Linked DNA regions of Homo sapiens: region 2 is linked to region 1. A link means that fine-mapping ties the variant in region 1 to the expression of a gene that starts in the linked region. Tissue or cell type: skeletal muscle. Region 1 holds a variant in brackets; the other region holds the start of a gene. All regions are shown on one strand. Distances are from middle to middle.

Region 1 (8,433 bases):
GGCATTGTAGGAAAAATACAGCAAGTCATTTATTGGTCATAAAGACCTTACAGTGAAATGGTGAGTGGAGAAGGGAAGAAGTTTGCAGACTTCCTTCTAAATAAGACTCAGACAGAAAGCAATGGAAGTTCAATGGAAAGGAAGGTTGCAGTGACATTAGTTTTTTATTTTTTCTTATTTTGCAGTGACATTGATTTGAAAAAGACATTTGGGAAATATGTAGAATGTGCCTGGGTTTGCACTTTGCTTCTGGAATTCACTAACGATGTGATTTAAGGCAAATTTCTCTCACTGGAGTGCAGTGGTATGATCATGACTCCCTGAAGCCTCAAACTCTTGGGCTCAAGCAATCCTCCCTACTCAGCCTCTCAAGTAGATGGGACTTACAGGCACACCATCATGCCTGGCTAATTTTTTAAATTTATTTTTTGTAGAGGGTCTCACTGTGTTGCCTGGGCTAGTCTCAAACTCCTGGCCTCAAACTCCTGGCCTCAAGCTATCCTTCTGCCTTGGCTTCCCCAAATGCTGGGATTACAGGCATAAGCCATCACACCCAATCTAAGGTGAGTTTCTTAACCGATCTGAGCCTCATCATTTCTTCATCTGTAAAGCAAGCACAGTCTTTCCTAATGTGCATTGAGGTTACAGGTAATCAAGAGTGCATGCTAAGCACTTGGCATTTTGTCTGGGACAAGGTAGGTGATATTGTCATTATTAAGAAAGATCAGGAAGGGCACCCCACAAGCTTGAGGTCAGAATGCCTAGCAATTGGAATTACTCAACATCTGAGTTAAGGCTGGGCTCTAACACTAGTTAGCTGGGCACCAAGGAAAACTCAGCGTAGGATGGATATTGTGTGCTGATGAAATGCTACATGGGGTGGTGATATTTACTGCCCCAGGTTCGTCATGGTGTGGAGAAGGTAAGGTGTGATCCTAAATATGAAGCCCCTTTAAAAGGCAATTATCAGCCATACAAATCAGGAACACTAGCATATAGAGAGCAATTTGAAATTTGTATTTGGCAGGTGTGTCTTGGAGAATCTCTAGGGAAAATATGTCCTCTTAAAAACCTTAGAGGATCTGTGAAAAATGTACCTTGCTGCCCCATCTGAAGGCTTCCATACCTCCTCTTCTTTCCTCAAACCCTCAGATGGGACATGGATTGCTTCCTTCTGTCTCTTCATTACCGGGGATAGTATTAATTCTTTGGTGTTCTTTATTATCCTTATTTTTATTATTATGTGAGAAATTTATTAGTAAAATTTTCAGTAAGTAGGATTACAAGCTAGTCTACCTGTGGATAGAATTGCAGCATATATAATACAATGAGAGAGTAGGGAGGGGAGATAAGGAAGCAAGGAAGAGAGAAAGGGAGAGAGTGATTTGTTTAAATTTTTAAATTATTTTATTTTATTTTATTTTGAGACAAGATCTCGTGTCTCCCAGGCTGGAGTACAGTGCTGTAATCGGCTCACTGCAGCCTCGACCTGCTGAACTCTAGCAATCCTCCCACGTCAGCCTCCCTAGTAGCTGGTACTACAGGTACATGCCACCACTCCCGCTAATTTTTTGTTTTTTTTGTAGAGACAGGATCCCACTATGTTGCCCAGGCTGGTCTTGAACTCCTGGGCTCAAGCAGTCCTCCCGCCTTAGCCTTCCAAAGGTTGGCATCAGACACCACAATTCAAGAAAATGAAATAAATTAACAAAATTATTAGGCTAAACCGTGATTTTTTTTCAGACACTGAATTTAAGTTTCTAGGTGTGTGCATTAGTAAGATCTAAAAACATTTCTCTTTTATAGGAAAAGAATTGAAAACTTTGAGAAAAAGATAAAGTGCCCAAATCAAAGCATGCAGAGCTAACAAATGGTAGAGCCGGCAATTGAACATAGGTCTCTCCATAGGCAAAGCCTATGTATGCCCTTTCCAGGGCACCAGGCTGCCTCCCTTAGCCTTGGCACTTGACTTTGATACTGGATACTCTTTTTAAAGACGATGTTATGTAAGTATACAAGGGTTACTTGTTTATTGCTTTTTAATTCACTCTCTACCCAGTATTTAACTGAAACTCTGACTTTCAAGGAAGTGTTATCTGTTATTAACAGACGTCAGGGTATAACAAAAATAAATTATTTTTATTTAGTAGTTTAGGTAACTTCCTGCCTTCAACATTTAATGCTTTGTTCAAACTTCTATGTAGAGAAGAATCTAGTTCATAGATATTTTTCATAATGATCATTCAAAGAAGTGGTGTTCACAAATCGGTGGTTATCTCAATTAGCTACCATCTTCCTCCTTTATGAGCATTTCCCTTCTCCTTTCAGACAGAAATAATATCTCTCTCCTTGGTGCTCCAACAGCGCTCTGTGCCTCTTCAATGGCAAAGCTGCATTTGCTTTGTCTTCTTCCTTGGCGGCTATAGTTTTGATCTAGACTGTAAATTCCCCACTAGACCATAAGTTCCTGTATCCTTCATTTGTAATATCTTAACAATATTCCAAGTATTTATTAGCCTAATTAAATTTTATGTGCCGTATTTTTAAACCGTTTCAGAGGAATTAATTTTAACAATGACTGGGTTATTTTGGTCAGATAATTCGTGAATAATAAGGAACATTAAAGCACTAACTAGTCCTGGTAATGGAGAGGCAGAAGGAAAGAATTTGGTGCTGGACCTAATGGCTGGAAGAAAGGATGAGCTGTGGAAAGGTTTTAGAAAGGGCTGCATAGTACATTTTCAGGTTTTTATTTGCTAACTCTTTTTCAGCTATTAGGTTGGTGCAAAAGTAATCGCGGTTTTTGCCATTGAAAGTAATGGCAAAAACCGCGATTACTTTTCTGTTAACATAATATTACAAATATGAAAGTGTGGATAATCAAAATAGAGCTATAAACAATTTGATAGAAATTAATTTCTGAATCATACCTTCCTTCTCTGCTGCGGATACATAACAGTTGGTAGAATTTATTTCTGTGGGAAAACTTGTACCTATGTTCAGCCTGTGACATGAAAATCTCAGGTACTGCATCAGCAATGCATCATCATCTTTTTCTTTCTCCCATTTTTATTGCTTTTGTGATCCTGTCCTGAATTACTGGCAATGCCTCGAACAACTTTAAGTCTCTTGCCGTAACTTGGACTTACGTGCTACAGTTAATAAAAAAGTCTTTAAAGAGCATTAAGGTCTTAAATAGCAAAAGCATTTTGATATTTCAGGACTATTGCTAACCAGGGGAATCAAAGAACATATGGCAAAAAGCTGTGCTTTTTCACATTCTGAGTAGGACGGGGCAGGGGAAATTGTGAAGAAAATGAGATAGGCCTGAAGACGTCCTGTGATTCCCTCCCTCCTGGCAGCCCAAGTGGGCCCTGGAACTCCCAGTTACTCCCCAACCCCCACCCTCACAACAGCATCCTCCCCAATGTCTTTTGGTCTTAGAAATAGATCTGACAAATATTTCCACTCTGAGGTATCCATGTTAAGGTCATGATGTATAAACACGATGAGGGAGTGAAAAGTAAACAAGCAAAGCTACAGAAGTTTTAAACCAACAAATGAGCATCTAATTGTGGAATGTGGGGCACTAAGAAGCTGGTTGAGGGAGAATTTGGAGAGTGTCAGTTCTTCCTATAAAAGGTTACCCTAATCCTAGAGGATAATATTCTGATCTTCTCTGAAGAAAGTATACAACTTACAAGAAAATTCAGAGGGCATCAACTCCACCTGGAAGAAAATCCAGCTGTTTTTAAGTTCTGATGTTTTGTTTTGATTTATCATTTTTTCCTTGCCAGTGATTTATAGTTGTAGAATGTTTAGAATTGGGTTAATGGGTACAAAAATTCAGTTAGATAGAAGGAATACGTTCTAGTATTTAATAGTACAGAAGGGAAATTATAGTTAATAATAACTTATTTATATTTCAAAATAGCTAAAAGAGAAGAAGTGTAATGTTCCCAACACAAAGAAAAGATAAAAGATAAATGTTTGAGATGACAGATATCCAATTACCATGATTTAATCATTGCATGTTGTATACATGTATCAAAATATAACATGTAACTCCAAATACATACAAGTATGATATATCAATTAAAGAAATCCAAGAAAGGGGTGTCTCCATTTTTAGGACAGTTCAAACCAAAATGTTCTTCAGCTGAAGTTGTCTGCTGTGGTGGGGCTTGGGGAGAGACTAGACTGCAGGGAGGAATGAGCCAGTGGTGGAGGTGGGGGGATAGACAGGAAGCTATCACAGGAGTTCTCAGCTGGGAAGATGGAAGTCAGCACTAGGAAAAGTCACAGGAGGATCAAATTATTCTCTTCACCTATCTCTGGCTCCTCCAGCTGCCCCC[T/A]TCCATCAGCTGGTTTCCACAAATAACTGGCCCTCTAGAATCTTACTTAAAAAATGTTCTCAACAAAGGGTTCCTACTCCCACTCACATTACTTTGAAGAGATAAGCTGGAATGTTTTACAAACAACCAGCTGAACAGGTTGAAAGAGCAGATGTTAAGCTGAAATGTTGCAATGACTAGTTTTGGTTCTTGGAACACCAAACACTAGATGACATCAAGTGTGTATTTTTAGCCTTATTTATAATGTGACAAGTCACATTTCACTCTCTCCTCATTGTCAAAGGCTATTTCCAAAGGATTACGAAGGAAGATCTGACTTGCATTAAAGCTTCTTTGACTTTGAACACAGCACATGTTTTCCATAAGGAAATCAATAAAATCTGAGAGTAGAACTTGAATAATATATTTCATTTCTAATGCAGCACTCACCTAGATAATTTATAGTGTCTCATTTTAAACTTTGCAAAATCACTTGGATGGGTTCTTGTTCTTCTAGTTTTTTATAGTTCATTAATTCAACAACTATTTATTGTGCACTTGCCATATAGCATAGGGACACATATATTCATAAATTGTTGGAGATAAACAGATAGCTCTGATGAACTTCATACTTTGAAGGAGGAGACAGCCCCATGAAGAAACAATGAGAAATACAGTCTGATCATTAATATAAAGAGAGGTGTGAACAACATGTGAACCTGGCTTTTGAAAGGAGAGGCAGGAGGAGCCAGGGAAGGCTTCATGGAGAAATCTGGTTTTGAAAGACATAGAAATGAGATAAGTGAGCAAAAGAGGTTCCAGGTTGAAGGGCAATGTGTGCAAGCCTGTACCTCATATTCTAACATCACAGCATATGTACGACACTGTATCTAGCACAGTTGTACATTGTGTCATCAGTCTGTACAATATGCTTTTGTACTTGACTCTATAAATCATGAAGCTTGACAACAGTGGTGCAATTTTTTTGTTGTTATTGTTTTGTTTTTCTTTTTTCCTTGTGGTTAAGTTGGTGATCTCAAGCTTTAGCCTGTGAATGAATCAACCTGATTGATTAAACATGGGTGACCCGGGCCATATTCCCAAAGACATGATTCAGTTGATCTAGGTGGGGCCTGGGAACCTGTATAGTGTTTTTAAAAGCCCTCTAGTGATTTTAATTAAGAGCATCAGAAGATCATGCATTGAGAAACACTAGATTAGGGAGGATAGAAAGTAAGGAATTTCTGTTTCTTTTTTAGGTTTTTATTTGCAGAAGGAGAAAATGAGGAAGAGAAAGGGTTGGTAAACAGTGTAGGACAAAGGAAAACAAAAGTAGCTGAGAGAGGAATTGAGAGGTGTTGGCCAGTAGGAATCTAGGTATCAAGAAGATAAGCTGCTGATTGTCAGCGTTTGGGAGGGAGATTTGCACAGGAAGGTACACAGTGTGAGAAAATAGCAATAATACTATGTAATGTAAAAATCTTAACACAGAAATGGGCTGCAGCTATGCCAAGATAAAGCATCCTTTTACAAATATAGTAGAGAACTGTGACTGATGACAAAAATAAAAGTTGGATAGATTGTGCTGATAGTTTATTTGGATATTAAATAGAAGGTTGGCCTCAGAAAGTTTTTTGTTGTGTTCTGGCACCATCTCTGCCAATTGTGTTCTGGAAAATATCTCTTCGTGTTTATTTTCTCATCACAATGAAAAGAGAGCAATGATGTTACGGACAATGCCATGGCTCACTGGAACCTGTTTGTGTTGAAGCAACAGAGATTATCTTGATTTTGCAGTTTCCTAATATCATTTATTTAATTGCTGGTTACACCATTACTCGTGATGCTGCATTATTCATTGTGACCCCATGAATACTGGCTTCCAATGACACTCAAAGGTTATTATTGTGCCGAGTTAAGTGCCACATATGTACTTGTGATGACTACAAATGCAAGTTTTATGCAGAGTATTCAGAAAAAATGGAGAACAATAATTCATTTGCTATTCATGTTAAGTTTACAGACTGGAATGTTAGAGCATAAACTAGAGCAATGCAACAACCAGCCATGTTTTCTCTTTAACTTGTTAAATTGTAATGATGGATTCTGAGAATGTGATCCCTTTCTATGTGGCTCCCACCTGTGCCTTCCATTCACTGCCGCTCTTGGGGAGAAGATGTGAGAGCCCAAGGGCAGAGCAAAAAGAGCAGTCCCATTTGCACAAGAAATGACCATTTCTCATCTGTCATGGATTAAAACTGACCCAGGAGAGACCTCTATCATTGTACCAATCAGCCAAGAGAAGACAATGATGAGAAAGGTCCATTGGCTTTGCAGAGCAACAGATTCTCCAGAGCACTGCTGGATGCAGGGTATGGACCCTGAAGATAGGTGGAATGACTGCTTTGAGTGCCAGTGGGTGAGGGACACATAAGCTGAGAGATCACTGTTCCCACCATCCTTAGGTGCTATAGACAGTATGTGGCATCAGGGTTGAGATACAGATAGGCAAGAGCTGATGCATGGGACCACACATCTGGCTCAAACCCAAGTACCAGCAATGGTCCTCAGTAGCTTGGAGCCCAGAACTTATCTTTTCACTGGGGTAAGAGCCACCCAAGTTAGCCATTCTGATGGTCCCATCTCACATAATCCCATGAAAGAAATACTGCAAGAGTCAGCAGGAGTGATCCACTTGTCAGGCCACTGTCCTGGAACCTGCATCTGAACCATTCTCCTGGAGCCTATTAGCATGAGTTCTGATGCTCTTCAGGATCTTGTGCAGAGGAGAGGGTTGCAGAGCATTTGGAAGAGAAGAAATGGGGTTTAAGATCAGGACATCATGCCCAGACAGCATTGGTAGACCTGATTGAGTTCAGGCAACTGAGGGTACTTAGAAAATGCTGAGGAAGTCATACAAAAATACGAAGTCTCAAACAGGGGCCCTCCTTACCCAGATCTCAGGGCAGTACTGCTGTCTGGATTCATAATCACAATTCCAGTTATAAACTTTGTGATCTTGAAAAAGTTATTTAACTGAACCTCAGTTTCTTTATAGATAAAATGGGGGTTATGTCTTACAAAGTTGCAAAAATTATATGAGCTAATTTATAAAGTGTCCAGCATAGTAATGCTTAGTAAGTTTAGCTATTGCTAGCTACTCATACCTCAGCCAGGGACGTGGGTGGGGTCTGCCTGAGTTGTTTGGGTCTATAAACAACTTGTTGCATTTGGGCAAATTCTTCTATATAGAAAGTATTAGGTTGGTGCAAAAGTAATTGTGGTTTTTGCCATTAAAAGTAATGCCACTAAAAGTAACCTTATACTATTTGTTTCCGATTATAAAAATGATGTTTGTTTTAGGAAACTTGAAAACTATACAAAAACATTAACTCATTCAACTTATTGAACAAATATATATATATATGTATATATATTTTTTTCAGACAAAGTCTCGCTCTTGTTCCCCAGGCTGGAGTGCAATGGTGAGATCTCGGCTCACTGCAACCTCCGTCTCCCGGGTTCAAGCAATTCTCCTGCCTCAGCATCCTGAGTAGCTGGGATTACAGGCACCTGCCACCACACCCGGCTAATTTTTGTACTTTTAGTGAAGACGGGGTTTCACCATGTTGGCCAGCCTGGTCTCAAACTCCTGACCTCAGGTGATCTGGCCACCTCGGCCTCCCAAAGTGCTGGGTTTACAAGTGTGAGCCACCACACCCAGCCTCAACAAGTATTTTTTTGAGTACCTGCTATGTACTGTAGGACTGGTTTTAGACACTGATGATCCAGTAGTGAACAAAACCAATAAAGTCCCTGTCCTCTTGGAGGAGAGACATACAATAAATTATACACATATCTAATATAGTATATCATATATATATTTACACATATATGCATATACCTCTGTGTGTGTGTATATGTTTGTGTGTGTATATATGTGTGTGTGTGTGTGTGTGTATATATATATAACATAGGTGTTCATATGGTATGTCAGATGGTGATAAGTACAAACAGAAAAATAAGTCAGGGCATGGGGCATATGGAGTGCCAGAAGGTTTAGAGATAGGAGTTTTAAATATAGTGGCCAGAAGAGACC
Region 2 (8,217 bases), 170 kb before region 1:
CAATTCCCAGATAAACATGACTAGAAGTGTCCTTTTAGGATTAAATTTTGAAGGTTTATCGTCTCTGGGTATTGATTTTTTTTCTATTAGCTTGAGGTAGTAGAAAACTTGCCTCAGAGTTCTTATTATTCTAATTTATACACACAGTTCCACAGTTAAAAATCAGTTAACATTCTCCATTGACGTCTGCTTCTAATTTACAGAATGTTGATTTTCGTATTGTGTAGAGATAGGCAGCCTTTGAAGGTCTATCTCACAGGTCCCACCTTACCTCTTTAACCTGCCCCCTCTCTCCATCAGTCTCACCTGCAAGGCCTGCAAATCTGAGAAGGTCTTGTCAGGGATTGTGTGAATGCCATTGCTGTGAAGCATGAGTAACTCCAGTTTGGTCAGGCCAGAAAAATCTGTTTCCATCAATCTAACCAAGCTGTTGTATCTGAAATAAAAAATGACATTCTAGGCATAAGCTAAGTCTGTCAACTAAAGTTCAAATGTCATAACCAAAATAAACACAAGAAAACTCAATACCTCTCTTTATAACTGTACTCTATTGAGACAATCAAATGCTTCAAAAACTGAAATTCACCAGATGCCACAGAAGGTCGGCTCTCTACCCAGTTCTTGCCATTTCAGTTACAATCACCCCCCTCATATTCTGGGAACTTGTCACATTTCTTATCATTTTCAAACTTTTATATATATGCTGTTCCCTCAGGTTGGAATGCCCTTGACCTCACCTTTTTCTATTTGTGAACACTTAATATCTAGCCCATTCTTTCATGACACTATCTCCTCACCACTCCCCCAGGTGGAATTCGTCAGCAGTGGTTAAGAAGCCTGGGCTCTGGAGGCCAGGCTTGGGCGTCTCGTTTGGGTATGATTACGAGCTCAGGCTCAACAGAGTAGTGGTACAACCCTGGGTAAAATCAGCAGGCTTTCTGTGCCTCAGTTTCCTCATCTATAAAATGTAAATAATAGAACTCACTCCAAAGGGGTTATGAGGATTAAATGGATGCAGTGCTTAACCCAATGCCAGCACCTACTGAGCACAACCTTAATGTTAGCTCTTAATATTAGTGACTGTCTCTAAAACACTTTGTATGCTCTATTAGTTTTTATTAATTGTACTGACCGTACATTTGTCTGGTCTTTTTAACGATCAATACACATCCTAGAAGTGAATAGTATATCTTACCATTGTATCCCCAGTGCATAGTACATGCTCACTAATGTCAAATAAACGATGCTAAGTCCAACATGTGTATTCAGACACACACAGACTTTTTTTTCATGAACGTTTAAAATACAGTCATATTTTTAAAAATTTAATTAGGCATCCATTTTAAATAAGTTTGTATGGAAAGAAACCAAAGGGCCTATAAAAAGGATACATATATATATATATGTATGTATGTGTGTGTGTGTGTGTATTATATAGGCAGACACTTCCAGTTACCCTGTCATCTCTTATGATGAATGATCATAACCCCAATAGTTAACAGAAACTATATCATTTTCCAGCAAAAATGTAGCCAGAAAGAAGCTTTTTACCGTCATGAGTCTCCCAACCTACCAAGAGGGACTTCAAATTCTAGAAGAACTTTCTCCTAATAAAAGTTTACCAGGAAAAGTTTTCTTATTGCCCCCAACAAACAAAATTCTCATGAGCTCATTTCAGAAAAGAAATATTGTTAAAACAATTGAGATTCATCTCCCAAAGTCATAGATGTTTGAGGGACAAGTCACTGCTGCGACTGATCCCTCTTTGAGAAGAGGAAACATGAGGTCTCACACACCCTAAATTGATGCGTTCCACATTGGGCGGGATGCTGTCTGGGATGGAAGTCAGGTACCGAAATGTGCAGTGTACCTCCGTAGGCATATAACAGGCACAGCGGCGAGGACAGGCCTTGCCCCCAGGGGTGGCGACCAGGCAGATCACAGCAAAGGAGACCAGCAAGCAGGTGATTCCTCTGCCTTTTACCTTCATCCTGAAAAAACATCATACCTCAGAGTTATAAAGAGTGGTGGAGCAAAGTCCCAGGACCACCACACACTCACTCTGGGAATCTGGGAGACCTTCTTTAAGGGTCGTAAGTGGTCAATTCCATTCCTACCCTTTGTGGTCATATGCACTCTTTACAAAACTATAGTGTGTGCTGCTGGCCTCACACTGCGCTTTATGATCAAGTGGGATATTTACTGTTGTGAAAATTTCTTCACAGCTTCTCACTTCTTTATGAAAACCAGCAATCCCTATTACTCAGGCATTCATTAAAAGGGAAACTGGAAACCATAAGAAAGATTGTGACAACTAAAATATATAGAATTTAGTTTCCTTTATATACATTAATTCTTTTAGAGTAACTTTCAAGAAACTGATTATAACAGTAATATCTGTGCATAATAAAACATTTGGAAACTGTAATTAAGCAGTAAAAAGGAAAAAAATTACTCAATCTCACCACTTATATAATCCTTAAACATGTTGTTGTATTCCTTTCCAGCCTTTTTCATCTATTGTGTGTATATGTATAGGTGTACATACATTTACGTGTATATGTGTACATGTGATCAAACTCAATTTTGTAACACATTTTATCATTTCATATATAATGTTTTTTCATTTTATTAAACCTTCTTCAGAAACATTTTTTAAAGGTTGTAATAATCCACTGGAAGGGAGAATAAATCTCTTTCTAACCGGTTTTCAAGTCCCTGCCAAAAAAAAAGACACATTGAACACTTCACTGCCAAGTAATGACCATAAGCAACAGCGACTGACCAGCTGAGAGGGCTTGAGCCATGCTGACCCTGTGCAGGCATGATGCTGTCTGCTTTTGCTCAGCTTCGGACATCTCTCTGCCTTTTTCCTTGGTCCCTCCTCCAGCTCATGGCTGCCACAGGAGGTGGGGAGCATAACCAGGGAAGAAATATGCTCAGCTTGTCAGAAAAAAAAAAATGGTATCTGTTACCCATATGTGGGGCAAGCCCAGGAATTCAAACCTAATTCTCTCCTGAAATGCAGGATTGAAATAAACTCTTTATTGTGCTTTTCCAAGCAAAATGACCTTCATAATTTGTAATAAATCCCACCGTTCTGTGGAACAGCATGATGTTGGATTCCACCAGCAACCACCCTTTAGCTACAAACTACACTGAGAAATAACACTGGGGCTGAACTGCTTGGATTTTCATACAGATAAAAAGATGATGGATGTATTATTATAATTTAGTCCAAATTAAAATTTAAGATAGGATTAATCATATGACCACTTTTGCCATCGTAACCACCTGGTTACAATAATTTTAAATAAGCTTTGTATGATTGGAGACAGCATTTCCACCTTATCATTAGATAAACAAAGGAAGGAACAGCAGGATGAAGGTAATTCTCTCGTTCAGCTTAAATAAAAGTTCTGGGTATGCCCACGTTCAAATTATTTAAAAGAGGATCAATAGCATAAGACAACACATGAATAAGGGATTCTCACAAACGTAAGGCTGAAAATGTACATAATGAAATAGGAATTGGCAATACCTGAGCTCTTCTTTCAGGTCCTGAGTCCTCTTGTGACATAGGCAGAGACAGAAAATCTTCCCAGGAAATGGAAAATTGTGTCCAAACCTGAGGGAGGAAAAGTTCTCTGCTCCAAAGTGAGCAAAAAGCCTTATTCTTTTTGGCTTACAGCCAGGAGTAATGCTCTTCAGGGAGACCTGGAGCCGCTTCCACAGCTTCAAAGTTCTATAACTCATAACCACATTAACCCAGAAGCGTTCTTTTATTATGATGCTTGCTGTTGCAGAAACAAAAGGCTAAGTGGAGGTTTTTAAATTTCCTTTCTCCTCCCTCAGTAGTGTACTTAATACTCCTTAAAGTTATCACTTGAATATTAACTACTACTAATCACTCCATTTTGCTCCAAAGTCCCAAGAGCTTCTCCTCAAATTGTCTTTTTTGGACAAATCTGTCACAGATGTCTCCATCTATTGATTGTCTTTCCTCAGTGTGTGTTTTTTTTTTTTGCCTGGCACCAGTCACCGAAGAATTGTCGTGTGCTTTCATGCCCCCACCTTCTCCGGGTGCGTCTTCCCTCCCCCACCCTCAGCCCTCCCCGCCCCAGCGCCCGCTTCTGCAGCCACGGTACTCGCTCCATTCCCACGCCAAGCCCCAGCCGGCGTGGGGTTCCAGCCCTTTCCGGGGAAGGATTGGCCGAGGCGCTCACCTGTTTGCCCTGGTGACCAATGGGCTCGAGCTGCCCGGGCTAGGTCCCGGGCTCGGTCCCGGGCTCAGCTGCTGGGGTCGTGCGGAGCTGGTCCGGAGCTCTGGGAGGGAAGGAAGGAAGGCGGAGCGAGGGCGGGGGATGAGCCCGACTTCTGTGTCTGGGGACGCGGCCGGGGCTCAGCAGCACAAGGATGAGAAACGACCACCGGGCCCCTCTTTATGTTTACGAGCGTGTGGGAAGCTAATTCGCCGTGGCTTCACTCTTTAAATTCCCAGGGCTTTCTCCTAGCAAGTTGGCAGGTCCTGGCTGGGTGGCAGAGCAGTTTCAGTGGCCGCCCGTTCATTTCCTCCTTGACCTCTTCCACCTGTTGACAGGTGGGCCTTTTGGTTTAAGGGTTTACGTAAATCGCCGCAGGCTGTCCTTGGTCCTGTGGCTCCCAAAGTTCTATTTGAAGGCTAAGTTAGCGTTAATGACCTGTGATACCTGCAGTGTCAATGTTTTATTTAAACCCCTCTTTTAAAAATAAGTAAATTATATTGCGTATATTTAAGGTATACAACATGTTATGGGCTATATACAGATAGTAAAATGGTTACTATAGTGAAACAACATATCCATCATCTCACATAGTTACCCCATTTTTGTTTTTGTGACACGAGCAGCTAAAATCTACTCTTTTAGCAAGAATCCCAAATACCATACAATTTTATTAACTATAGTCCTCTTGCACATTAGATCTATATAAATGTATGCTACTGTGTATTCTCTGATCTACATTTTTCCATTTCCTTTCTCCAACCCCTATAACCACTATTTAATTCTCTATCTCTGTATAATCGACCTTTTAGAAAAAGATTTCACATATATAAGTGAGATCATACACTATTTTTCTTTTGGTTTCTGGCTTATTTCACTTGGCATAATGTCCTCCAGGTTCATCCATGTGTGACAAATGGCAATATTTCCCTTTTGTTTTTTAACTGCCAAACAATATTACATCGTATATAGATGTCTCAGAGGAATTCTTTTAAATCATTATCACAGAACCGGATTTAAATACTACTATTTCTGCTTGGATTACATTCTCCTTTCTCATCTCCAACCCTACCATCTGGAGGCAGAGATGCCTCCAGAATCACCTCTACCAACTTGCCCACATGTAATATCTCCTGCAATTCTTGGTGGGGCTCCCAATACTCATAAACACTGAGTTAACATAACTAAAATGACCTTGTTTCCTTCCACGTAGTTACATAGCACTTAAGCTTTTGATGACAATTTGCAATGAATGTTTTAGGGCAGTGGATCTCAAGATAGGGTCACGGGTCCAGCATCAGCATTACTTTGGACTTCGTTAAGATCAAAAATTTGCGGGATCCATCCCAGACCCACTGATTCAGAAACTGTACGAAGGAGGCTTAGGAGTCCATGTGTTAACAAGCCTTCCATATGATTCTGATGCAGCTACAATGTGAGAATTGCTGGTTTAGTGAAATAACTTCTGAAAAATGTTTTACAAATACCAACTCATTTCAGCCTCACCATAGCACCAAAAAGCCTAAAAGGAAAGTATTTATGTTATTCCCATTTTACAAGTAAGGTACATGAAGGAAAGTGACAGAACTCCAGGCCATGTGGCTTGTGAGTAGAAAAGCCGTTAATTCAAACTCAGGCAGTCTTGCCCTATGGTCTGAACGTTTAACCATAAAGTTGTGGCTGCCTCACTTAGCTAAACATGGATAATGTGCCATATCCCATGCCGAGCATTCATGTGATTTATGGTTAGTAATAAGTCAGTTACCAAAGTAGAATTATAGAATCAGAGACTCAGAGTTAGAAGTAACCCTAGAAGCATGTATATGAACATGGTCTTTAGCTCTGCAGAGCTGACAAGATTCTTTTAAATTAAAAATTCACGTGATGTCCAAACTTGGATGCTTGCTTTGGAAATGTGGCATATTTGTCGGGTTTTGGCAGCCACAGTTTATCTTTCTCCCAAAGCTCCTTGGTGACCAACCTCATGGCTTCGTATTCTTTAGTCAATTTCTAACCCAGGTCTGGACTTCCAGACCTCAACTAGGATGAACCACAGAAAGATGACAGCAACATGTTAAACTTATTTTCCTAGGCTTGTTACCTGGGGTCATTTTCTTGCTATCAATTTCAAAGTGAACTCCTGATAGGAATGTTTGCTTCTCTTAAGAATTTTTATGAGATAAATCTCTACAATTGCTTTATGTCAGAGCTCTTCTCTGACGTATTTTCTACTTTTCATGTCATCTTCCAGAATTATTAGAAACCTGAGTCATATTGGCACCAATTCTAGTTCCATTTGCTCCACTTAATAACAATTCTAATATTTGTAATTACTTTTATAGTTAGAGTATATATGTGTCAAAGCCTTTATATGTATTGCTTAATTCTCAGAAATATTCTGATGAGTAAGTGCTAAAATTATACCAGTTTTTCAGATGAGATTGCTGAGGATAAAGAATGCTAAATGATTCAGAGCCAAAATACAATACTGAATTAATTTTAAAATTGTAAAACCAATGCTTTTAAGCCTTACATTTTCTGGTTTTTTTTTTTTTTTTTTTTTTTTTTTTTTTTTTTTTTCTGAGACGGAGTTTTGCTCTTGTTGCCCAGGCTGGAGTGCAATGGCGCAATCTCGGCTCACCACAACCTCCACTTTCTGGGTTCAAGCAATTCTCCTGCCTCAGCCTCCTGAGTAGCTGGGATTACAGGCACATGCCACCATGGCTGGGCGCAGTGGCTCACACCTGTAATCCCAGCATTTTGGGAGGCCAAGGCGGGAGGATCACCTGAGGTCAGGAATTTGAGACCAGCCTGGTCAACATGGTGAAACCCCGTCTCTACAAAAATACAAAAAAAGCCTTATATTTTCTATCTTCTTCCTGCTTCTATTTATAAAATTTGGAGAGTCCACAGCATATCAAAGAAAAGTTTCACCACTCTTTTTTCTAACCATGCTTAATAATGCAATATGTTTCTATAGATTCATATGGTTTACAAATCACTTTCACCTTTGAACATGGCCTCATTTAATAAGAAATATATGAAATTCAATGATAATGACTTTATTTTGTAATTGTAACTTTATTTTGCAGAAGTTAATTGAGTGTATAATTTGCCAAGATCTCAGAGCTGAGCATAGCGACTCTGAGTTAATTGTCAATCTGAACTCCTAAACCTGTGTTTCCTGGACTACGGTAATTTACCTACGCTTTAAGGATGGTTTGACATTTTAATTACCTCTCACTATAGTTTTACCTAATGATTTTCTTTAAATCCTCCCCCTCTTTTTGTTACTCTTTTCTTAAACAGTATTGTTGGTAAATTCTCAGGCTTTGTATTTTTTCTAGTAAACACGACAATAAATATACATCTTCTTCACCTTTTATATCACCCCTGAGAATTACATTTCCCCTCATCTCTAGGTCTTTGACATTATTTGCTGTCTTTTCTAGTAATTACTACTTCTTACTCCTCATCCTTAATTTATCATCCATACCATCCTTTACATCACCCTCCTAATCAGAGTATTTATTTAACACCAATCAACCAAGCGCAAGCAGTTACAAGTCATAGATCACCTGACAATCAGAACAAGCTATGAATTTTAAAACTGACTTATATATGTGTCAACAGATAACCAAATGCCAAAATTGTTACATATCTTTTAATCAGGCACAATCATTACCACCTCCCAGCTCCACAATTTTCATATTATTCAATTAACCAAACAGTCAAGACCTCCACTGAGTGATTCCAATAGCAGTGAAGTAGACTGACATCTTAGCCCTTCCTTTTTTGAAGTTACAGACTAGCACGGTAAGTGATAAGTGCCATGAAGAGACATAATGCAGGAAAAGGAGGTAGAAAGAAAATCAGTATCATCTTTCTTCCAATACAGTTGCAACTCAACCAACTAAAGTCAAACTACATGACTTGAAGACTTTATATATAGTAT

Evidence for each region. PIP is the estimated chance that this variant, and not a neighbour inherited with it, causes the effect.
Region 2: IGSF10 starts here. The variant in region 1 is fine-mapped to the expression of IGSF10 in skeletal muscle (FUSION, PIP 0.95).

Annotation. Positions count from the first base shown.
Region 1 is chr3:151,626,760-151,635,192 of GRCh38, forward strand. All of the region lies in intron 1 of LINC02066 (long intergenic non-protein coding RNA 2066), which reads left to right. Among named protein-coding and RNA genes, the nearest start is that of MIR5186, 65 kb to the left of the region's middle. The variant T/A (reference allele first, on the strand shown) is at 4,356.
Region 2 is chr3:151,456,720-151,464,936 of GRCh38, forward strand. IGSF10 (immunoglobulin superfamily member 10) reads right to left here and starts at 4,342. Exons shown (of 8, transcript NM_178822.5): 1 at 4,227-4,342; 2 at 3,542-3,628; 3 at 1,797-1,991; 4 at 307-436. The coding sequence starts at 1,990.